2 linked regions of the Homo sapiens genome follow. The protein of the gene in region 2 purifies or fractionates together with the protein of the main gene of each other region. This does not show direct contact. Each region holds a gene or a part of one and is shown on either strand. Other genes may lie near its edges.

Region 1 (4,886 bases), on a different chromosome or scaffold from region 2:
TTTTCCAATGGTTAGGATCTTCCCTTGCTCTTTCCCTAAACCCGGAGCAGAGCTTGAGGCTGGGAACCAGCAGCTGCATGGGTTCACACAGTTGCTCCAAAAGGAGCATACCTATACCTTTAAGTTTGAAGGGAATCTGGGAAGAGGGGTCTTGGAATGGAACAGTCTCTCAGAAGGGTCTCAGAAGCAAGAAATTTGAGAACCACTGCTCTAGAAGAAAACCCACATATGCCTTCTGGTATGGTTTGGCTGTGTCCCCACCCAATCTCATCTTGGATTGTGGCTCCCACAGTTCCCATGTGTTGTGGCAGGGACCCAGTGGGAGGTGGTTGAATCATGGGGGCAGGTCTTTCCTGTGCTGTTCTTGTGATGGTGAGTGGGTCTCACAAGAGCTGATGGTTTTATAAGGGAGAGTTTCCCTGCACAAGTTCTCTCCTCTTGTCTGCCACCATGTGAGACATGCCTTTCACCTTCCGCCACGATTGTGAGGCTTCCCCAGCCATGTGGAACTGTGAGTCCATTAAATCTCTTTTTCCTTATAAATTACCCAGTCATGGGTATGTCTTTATTAGCAGAGTAAAAATGAACTAATACACCCACTTAAAATATTTTCTTAAACAAGAAGGAGAAAAAAAAAAACCTCAAATATTTTACCTGGCACTTGCTGATATATTTTTGAGAAACTCTTCACTAATCTTCCAGTTTGCCACATTTCCTTTCACAAACCCAGCAACCATCACAAACAGAAGGACGAGAATATTAACAGCTGTGAAGACTTTATTCACCCAAGCAGACTCTTTTACTCCAAAAGACAAAAGACCTATGGAAAAAGGGCATTTCAATTTTTATTTAGCTTTAGGAAAGGCAATAGCATTTTGAGGCAAATACATGACTTTAGGATATTATTTCACCAGCATTCATGTCTTTAATTTCCATCTATCTACCTCTACTGCTAGTTCTTACTCATTAGTTAATTACCTAATTCTGAAATGTCTTCTGAATGCAACCAACTCAATTTCGGAGGCAGGTCATGCTCATAGAAGACACTACACTTTCTAAGAAACATAAATCTAGTAACTTTGGCCATCTTTGCCAGTGATAGGTAAAGTAACATCTAATTTCAAGGTAAATGGTTGCAAACTATTTTTTCTTTTTTTGAGACAGAGTCTCGCTCTGTTTCCCTGGCAGAAGTGCAGTGGTATGATCTCGGCTCACTGCAACCTCTGCCACCTGTGCTCAAACAATTCTCTCACCTCAGCCACCTGAGTAGCTGGGACTACAGGTGTGTGCCACCATGTCTGGCTAATTTTTGTATTTTTCGTAGGGTTGGGGTTTCGCCATGCTGGCCAGGCTAGTCTAGAACTCCAGACCTCAAGTGATCTGCCTGCCTCAGCCTCCCAAAGTACTGGAATTACAGGCACTTAAGCCACAATGCCCGGCCCAGTTGCGAACTTTTAAAAAGTAAACGCTAAAACATTTGTCTGCCATGCACACAAAATACATAAACAAAGATAATACTTCAATTGTGCCAAAAAAGTACTTTGTTAAACCTATTCTCATTTTAATAGCTGTATATTCTGATTGCAAAAGTGATCAATTTCTATTCAAGTACTTTGAAGACACAGAAAAAAATATAAAAAGATCAACCGTGCTTTTCCCTCCCAAATTTTGTAAACACACACACACACACACACACACACACACACACACACTCTTTTGTGCCAGTAAATATATAATCTCATTTTTAACAGCTGCATAATCTTCGACTATATTGAGGTACTACACTTTAATTCATCCCTTATTTATAGACAATTAGATCACTCTTTGTTTGTTACAATTATAAATAGCACTGACATAATAATTCTTTTATAAATATCTTTCTACACTTTCCATTTACTTCTATACAACAATTTTCTGCAAAGTAATACTGCATCAAAGATATGGACTGTTGGTTCCTATTATCAAAATATTCTCTGGAAAGTTTGGCTCAATTTAAAGTATCTATTTTTTCTATTAGGATATTCTATTCATATTGATTATATGATTTGGCTGTGTCCCCACCCAAATCTCATCTTGAATTGTAACTCCCATAATCCCCATGTATCATGGGAGGGACCCAGTGGGAGGTAACTGAATCATGGGGGCAGGTTTTCTGTGCTGTTCTCATGATACTGAATACACCTCATGAGATCTGATGGTTTTATAAAGGGCAGTTCCCCTGCACATGCTCTCTTGCCTGACACCCCGTGAGACGTTCTTTCCCTACTCGGTCACCTTCCACCATGACTGTGAGGCCTCCCCAACCATGTGGAACTGTGAGTCCATTAAACCTCTTTTTCTTCATAAATTACCAAGTCTTGGGTATTTCTTCATAGCAGTATGAAAATGGACTAATACATTGATTTATAAAATTTATTTATATATTAATGCCATAAGCTCTCTACCTGCCATGTACAACAGATTATGTACATGTAGAAAAGTTATCAGACTGAAAAATAAATTTTCCCTTTTTAGTTTCTACCTTGAAAAAAATCTCTTAAACATTAACCCAAAACACCTACTTTGCTTCCTTCTAGTATTTTTCTAATTATATTTATCATATGTATATCTTTAACCCATCTGGTATAAGATTTGAATTACGGACCTAAGAAAGTTTATCTTTTACCATTGAGCAAATGATTGCTGTGAAAAGATGATGCCACAGATTTAGTTGTTTGTTCCCCGTATCTATACCACCCACCATCAAAAAAGCAAATTTTTCCAAGCAGAGATGAAAGAACTTGAATTTTATTTCTACCTGTGTAATTCCTAGAATCATATATTAACCATATAAAGGAAAGCTGTATGGTCAACACAATTCCTGACTCTGTAATTGTAAGTTAGGTTAGGAACCACTGCTATATACCTCAGAGAATAACAAAGCCACCTTTATATTTCATGTAAGTTTCCCAACAGCATATATGCACTGTCTACTCTGAGGTCTCATCTCCCACCGGAAGATTAGACACCAATGAATATCTCATCTAAGCAGAGCATACACTTCCCGTGTATCTTTAGTAAAACAACGGCTTCACGTAAAAAGACATTTGGTGTTACGATATGAATAGGGATTTACATAGGAGGTTTTGATCTTCAGAGATTCTAAGAACAAAGTTAAAACATAAGCTTCACCTATAATTAAAGGAAAGATATGATGGTGAATGAACACAGGACAAATGAGCCAAGACCTGAGTCTTGCTGTGGAATTAAACTATGTTCTAATTGTGTCACAGCTACATGCTCTTCGTCATTTAGAGATTAAAGTTGAATATTTTAAGTTCATTAAAATGATCCCTAAATAAAATATGATGGAAATAATTTAACGCTAGACTGGTTTCTATTTCTAAGCTAGACTGCTTAGAAACCAAAACAAAAATCAATTCTTTGTTGAAAAACAATTGGTGCAACTTCTCTTGACATTAGACTCAAAATGCAAAACATTTTAGATCTACGCACTTTGTTCATGTTCTTATCCCTATCCGTATGTAAAACATTTGATTAATGACTCACTTTTTAAAGGGTAAAGCTATTTTTAAAATTATATAATTTTTGAGTAAACATTTCAAAAGAGAAAGATATTTCTGTCTCACTCTTCTAACAAGGGAGAAAACAGAGATAAGGTCGGACAAGAAAGCATGAGGCAGACTGCCCAGGGTAAAGCAAGGAAGAAGTAGGAACAGACATGGTTTTTACTCTTAGGGCAATCCTTGATGGACATAAGCAGGACTGCAGGTAAGAAGGAGACTCAAAAGAGAAAACGTGGCCAGGCATGGTGGCTCACGCCTGTAATCCCAGCACTTTGGGAGGCTGAGGCAGGGGGATCACTTGAGGTCAGGAGTTTGAGACCAGCCTGGCCAACATAGTGAAACCCCGTCTCTACTAAAAATACAAAAATCAGCCAGGTGCGGTGGCGCGCACCTGTAGTCCCAGCTACTCAGGAGGCTGAGGCAGAAGAATCGCTTGCACCCGGGAGACGGAGGTTGCAGTACCACTGTACTCCAGCCTGGGCGACAGAGTCAGACTCCATCTCAAAAAAAAAAAAAAAAAAAAAAAAAGAAAATGTTCAAATAGTTAAAACAAATATAAGGAGACAGAGCAGGGATTAGCTATGCCTATGAAATAAAATCAGCCACCACGTGAGTGCTTACTAGGAACCAAACGAGAAGGCTATAGGAGGCAGACACTGATGCCCTCATTTTATGTACGAGTGAGGGAAAGATTAAATAAATTGTTCTATGTTCTAAAGCAGAGTGAGTGGCACAGCAGGATTGAAATGTGGTTATTAGAATTCCTGTGCCTCCTAAAACCACTATGCTACAATACTGACAAAAACTGGAAAATCCTAGTACTAAGTATGTTTGCCTATATAATGTCGACATTACAAAATGACAGGTGATTAGAACTTGCTTCCTTTACAATCAAAGGCCTACATTATATAGATGAAGCCATGTCAGAAAAACAGAAATTCTTCTAGAAATTGCAAATATCCCTAGTTGTATCTAGCAAGATGAAATAATGCCAAGAAATTACACATTCTTCCTTACTGAAACCACCGCTATTCCTGCAAACCTGCAATTAACGATTTAAAAAATCAATGTCCTCATCCTATTATTTAGTGTGTACCAGGTGCCATTTACTCAGAAGTGCTATTTTTACCATTGCACACAATTTAGACTTAGGTTAAAATGTGATTCCAGCCAGTGATAAACCCCACAGATGTCTAACAGTGACATAAATGTGTAAATATACTAATCTCATCTTGGGAACTCAGGCCCCAAATTCAGAAGTAACCTATTTTCCTGAGACAAATAGTGTGGCTCATTCTGCAGAGACTCATAACTGGTTTT
Region 2 (4,886 bases):
CGTTATTCTTGACCATCAAGAGACCATTTTTGTCAGTTTCTCCCTATCGTCACATTTTTTTTTATATATAAACAGTTTGAAGAAGAGCCTGTATATAGCCTAGAAATTTTCAAAAGTGACTGACCATATTAAACTACATAGATTGATACCTGTGCCTTTTTATTGTTCACTTGCCTTTTTGTAGTTTTCATCCTTCTTTGATATAGTGTAGTATTAACAATTTGGAGGTGTGAAACAAAAATGGATTCAAGTCTTGACTAACTTGTCTTGAACCACTTAAAGCTGTGTGATTTTAAGTAAATTACGTCACCTTTCTGAGCCTGTATTTCTTCATCTATAAATTGGGATTGATAATCTTTAACTCACAGAATTGAGAGGATTAAATGAGAAACCCTGTATAAATTCTCTTGTGAGGTAGGAATGATAACGTTTAAGAGCTTGAGTTGTGGTGGAACCATGCAGACTGATTTGAATGCTGGATTCGTCGCTTACCATTTGGCTTTGTGCATATTAAAGTTTTCTGTGCTTCCGTTTCTTCATAAAATAAAGATAATGATAGAACCTACCTTATGAGGTTGTTGTAAACATTCAAACAGTATCTGGCACATAGTAAGTGCTCGGTAAATGTTAATTATAAATTGCCTAGCTGAATGTTTGATACATACTAATAGGCCACCTGGCATTAATATTGTCATGACAGTTAAATGTTGGAAGGGGGAACAGTAGTAGCCAAATGCTCAAAATGAAGTTGTCATTGTTAGTTGAGGGATAAGTGGAGTTAGGTAAGGAATTTTCTATGGCATTAGTGCTTTTAAGCCTACAGAAAAAGTTAGGGCTCTACCAAGAAGCCAGGGTCCAGTACAGAAAGAGACAGGTTTGGATTTGAAGCCCGACAAGTAATGTTTTCCTCTCCTGAAAAATCTGACAAGTTACTAGGCTTCTAAGCTTTCTCAGCCTCTAAGTTATCTCATCTGTAAATGAGATAATGCCCTCTTGCAAAGTTGATGTGAGTAATAAATGAAGCCGCCAGAGCAATGTTTGACATACAGTTAACTTGGATGAATTGAGTGATGCTGCTGTTCCCTAGTAAGAGTATCCTCCAGTAGGTATGCAGGTAGTTACATTTGTGGGTGTGAACAGTGTAGAATTGATAGTGTTTCCCTAGAGCATCAGCATGAAGGTTTCTTAGGTAGCTTACAGTGGTGTGGGGAGGAAATGGTTTCATCCATGTGTTGGTTCCTTCAGCAATGGTGGTATTTTCTTTGGCACTTCGGTTTAGATTCTTCTGGACTTTTTTCCTAGGGCCCATTTAAACTTTCTCAGCAAAGCTTGACCAATTTTTAGCTGTAGACTCCAGGATGTTTCATGAACACTTTCTGCTTGTCACTAGGAACGTTTAAAATGTTAATTTCCTGGAATTTTTGGACTACTTAACATTCAGTCGTGAGTTAGGATTTTATCCAGATCCTTTGGAATTTGTTTTTACATGTTTATCACAAATCTAAACAGATCCCGCTTAGGCATCTTGAGATGCACAAGTAAACAGCTCTTACCTGATTTTTAAAAGTTAATTGCATGTTTAAAGTGATAGCTTACTAGAAAAGATATGTCTAGCTGGAGAAGCTTGCACATAGGTTTTCCTTTCTAGTAATGGATTTATTTTTTGGAATAAATTTGGCCTTTCCCATAGAAAATTCAGTGTGACTTTAATACACATGAAACTTTAATATAGCCTTAAATGTTTGACTAGTGGATAGAAATGTAATAGTCTTCAGGATTTCAGGACATGGTTAATTTAAGATTATAGACAGAGCTAATAGGTGTAGAGAACAATGCCCCAATCTTTTTTGTTTGAAAATGGTTGTATTTACACTTTACTTTTAAAAGCAGTTTCTTAATTCAATTTCAAATTGTTAATCAGCTAGGAATGTCTCAAGAAAAAATTGCATTACTATAGTTGGAGAAGCTATAGGGAAAAAGGGATGAGAAGCCACCTTAATTTTATTCCTTTAACTGAAAATAGGAAACCAGGTTATAAAAATATATCTTTGGGTGTGGGAAATATAGTTTATGTTGTTTGCAGTTTTGTCCATAAAATGATAGTCTTAATTAGTACTCTGAAAAAGAGTTGAAACTAAAAGAGATTATATATATGACATTTTGTAAACTGTAGTAATTTAAGCCAGAGGATGCTGTAGAGAGTACTTGTATGCAATAACCTTCTGACAGTTGGATTCCAAATACTTGATTTGTCTTCATATTTTTGTCATTCATTTAAAGTCAGCAGAATTCAGGTCTGTTAACGCAAAGCATTATGAAACAAAATAGTTTCCTAGGGAACACACCCCTAGGGGCCCAGGACTGATTTTGGAGATCTTAGTTAGCCATGATCTGTTTTGCAAGGTTAAATTTTGTTTTAAAGGTGCCAGGAACACTGTGGCTTGATGGTAAAGTTAGCATGAATTTTAAATTACACCGTTGTTACATGTAGCATCTTAAAATATCTTAAGGATCAGTTCAAGAGGTCCCCTCACATTTACTTTGTTGAAACAAATTCTTTTTAATAATGGTTTCAGGCATCAGTTGTGACAAGGTTATCTTTATGCTTTTCATGTAGACAAATGTTGGTAAAAGGCAGTAAAGGGTGCATCCTGAGGTTAATGCCATCATTTCATGAAAGAAAGGATCTCTCAAAAAAAAGGCTAAATTGATAATTTCCTCTTGGATGTATATGACTGCTACTTATATGCATTTGTTAATACAGTTGACCCTTGAACAATGTGGGGGTTGGGGTGCTGACCCACCATGCAGTTGAAAATCTGCATGTAACTTTTAACTCTCTGAAAACTAAACTACTAATAGTCTCTACTGTTGCCTGGAAGCCTCACTGATAACATAAACAGTCAATTAACACATACTTTGTATGCTATATGTATTATATACTGTATTCTTGCAATAAAGTAGAGAAAAAAACTTACCAAGAAAATTATGAGGAGGAGAAAATATATTTATAATTCATTAAGCAGAAGTGGATCACTATAAAGGTCTTCATCCTCATTGTCTTCGCTTTGAGTAGGCTGAAGAAAAGGAGGGGTTGGTCTTGCTGTCTCGGGTGACAGAAGCAAATCTGAGTATAAGTAGACCTTTACAGTTGAAACTCATGTTGTTAAAGAGTCAACTGTGTATCTTCTGTCTTCAGGCTTTAAGTTGCTACGACAAAAGTATAAATCGTAGAATTACAAATAAATTACACCAATTGTGTTAAATTAGGTTGGTTTAGACTAAACCTGTGATGTGTTTAGAAAAAGTTTGAATGAAATGTTGAAAAGCTGTCCTAGATTATAGACAGAAGACAGTAATAGTCGGGGTCAGAAGCATTATCTTAAGATGGCCGTAACTGGGTGTCTGATTCAATTTCTATCTCTGCTTTTTTTAATTCTGCTATAGGTATTAGAGAATGTGTGAATTGGAATTATTTAATATACCTGTTAGTTGTAATTGCTTTCTTAAGTAAAGGCCTTTTGGTTTGACATTTGGTCATTTCGTAAACATGCTGACCTAAACTCGTGTCCCTCCCTCAGAAGGAAATACGTTAATTTAGTATGACATCCTTTTTTTTCCCTTTGTGCTTATTTATTTATTTATTTTTTTGAGATGGAGTCTCACTCTGTAACCCAGGCTGGGCTGGGACACAGTAGCATCATTATAGCTCACCAAAGCCCCTAACTCCTGGACTAATGCGATCTCCCTGCCTTAGCCTCCTGAGTAGCTGGGATTATAAGCACACATCACTATACCCAGCTAATTTCTTAATTTTTTTAAAGACGAGGTCTTGATATATTGCCCATGCTGGTCTTGAACTCCTGGACTCAAGCAGTCTTATTGCCTTGGCCTCCCAAATTGTTGGAATTATAGGCATGAGCCACCGTGCCCAGCTTTAGTATGACATTCTTTATTCTTTTAGAAAGCTTTGAGATATTGATGCATCCTTATAGAAATTACTTTCATTTATTTATTTACTTACTTAAAACAGCTTGATAAAGTTGGAAAAAGCAGGACCCTAAATAATAAATATATTTGCCATCAGCCTTTTATAGGAAAACTCAGAAATAATAAGTGGAAATATTTAGGATGTCACTCATCAGACTTTTTTTTTGAATATGTAAATGTGTTTTTTTGAAAATTTAAACACGCAAAGTAAAAATTAAAAGTTTTGGTTAAGTTGTGAATTTCAGAAATTTATCTTGGTTATGGTGTCCTGAAGTTAAAAAGAATAGAGCATTAGTACATTAGTACATAAACGTTCTGTTATTCTCTGCCTAAGGGCAAGATCCAACTTTGAACCAGGTCCTGGATTTCCTCTCATCTTAAATCGGAGCCTTTTTCATTTGTAGTATAAATAAATTAGCCTTTTGATGCTGTGATTTTATTTGTATATGTTATATATGAGATTTATATCTCTCTTTGTATGCAGGCATTTCACTAGATTTTGTTTGGCCATCTATTTTTAGTGTTTCCCTAGCAGCATGTTTGCTTTACCTGCCTTCATCTAGGTTTCTACATCATCAGGGGTGGAAATATTAGTTGGCTTAATTAAGCTTGGGAGTTGTACCTTACTTGCTCTGTTGAGTGTCAGTTCTACCTTCTTTTGAAGCAGGCAAAAGCAGTTCATGGCACAAATGCCAGAAATAGCATGCAAACCACTTTGTAGTGGTATGCAAACTAATTTCTGCTGTGTCCTTTTCTTAATGCTTGTGAGGGTTACTGTTTACTTAAGAGTTAATATTTGGCTTATGAAACTAGTATCAGATGAGAAATTCCAGCATCCCTCCCCACCCCAGAGAAAGATGTGGTCATTGGGGACTGCTCTGAAGTCTGCCAGCCCT

What was found. The genes of interacting proteins can lie anywhere in the genome.
Region 1: the proteins of ATP2C1 (region 2) and SLC7A2 fractionate together in Homo sapiens (co-fractionation; one large-scale study listed by BioGRID). This does not show direct contact.

Annotation. Positions count from the first base shown.
Region 1 is NC_000008.11:17,544,612-17,549,497, reverse strand, and holds part of SLC7A2 (cationic amino acid transporter 2), read right to left. Parts: intron 821-4,886; coding exon 655-820; intron 1-654. UniProt on the Homo sapiens protein: Functions as a permease involved in the transport of the cationic amino acids (L-arginine, L-lysine, L-ornithine and L-homoarginine); the affinity for its substrates differs between isoforms created by alternative splicing.
Region 2 is NC_000003.12:130,896,425-130,901,310, forward strand, and holds part of ATP2C1 (calcium-transporting ATPase type 2C member 1), read left to right. Parts: intron 1-4,886. UniProt on the Homo sapiens protein: ATP-driven pump that supplies the Golgi apparatus with Ca(2+) and Mn(2+) ions, both essential cofactors for processing and trafficking of newly synthesized proteins in the secretory pathway.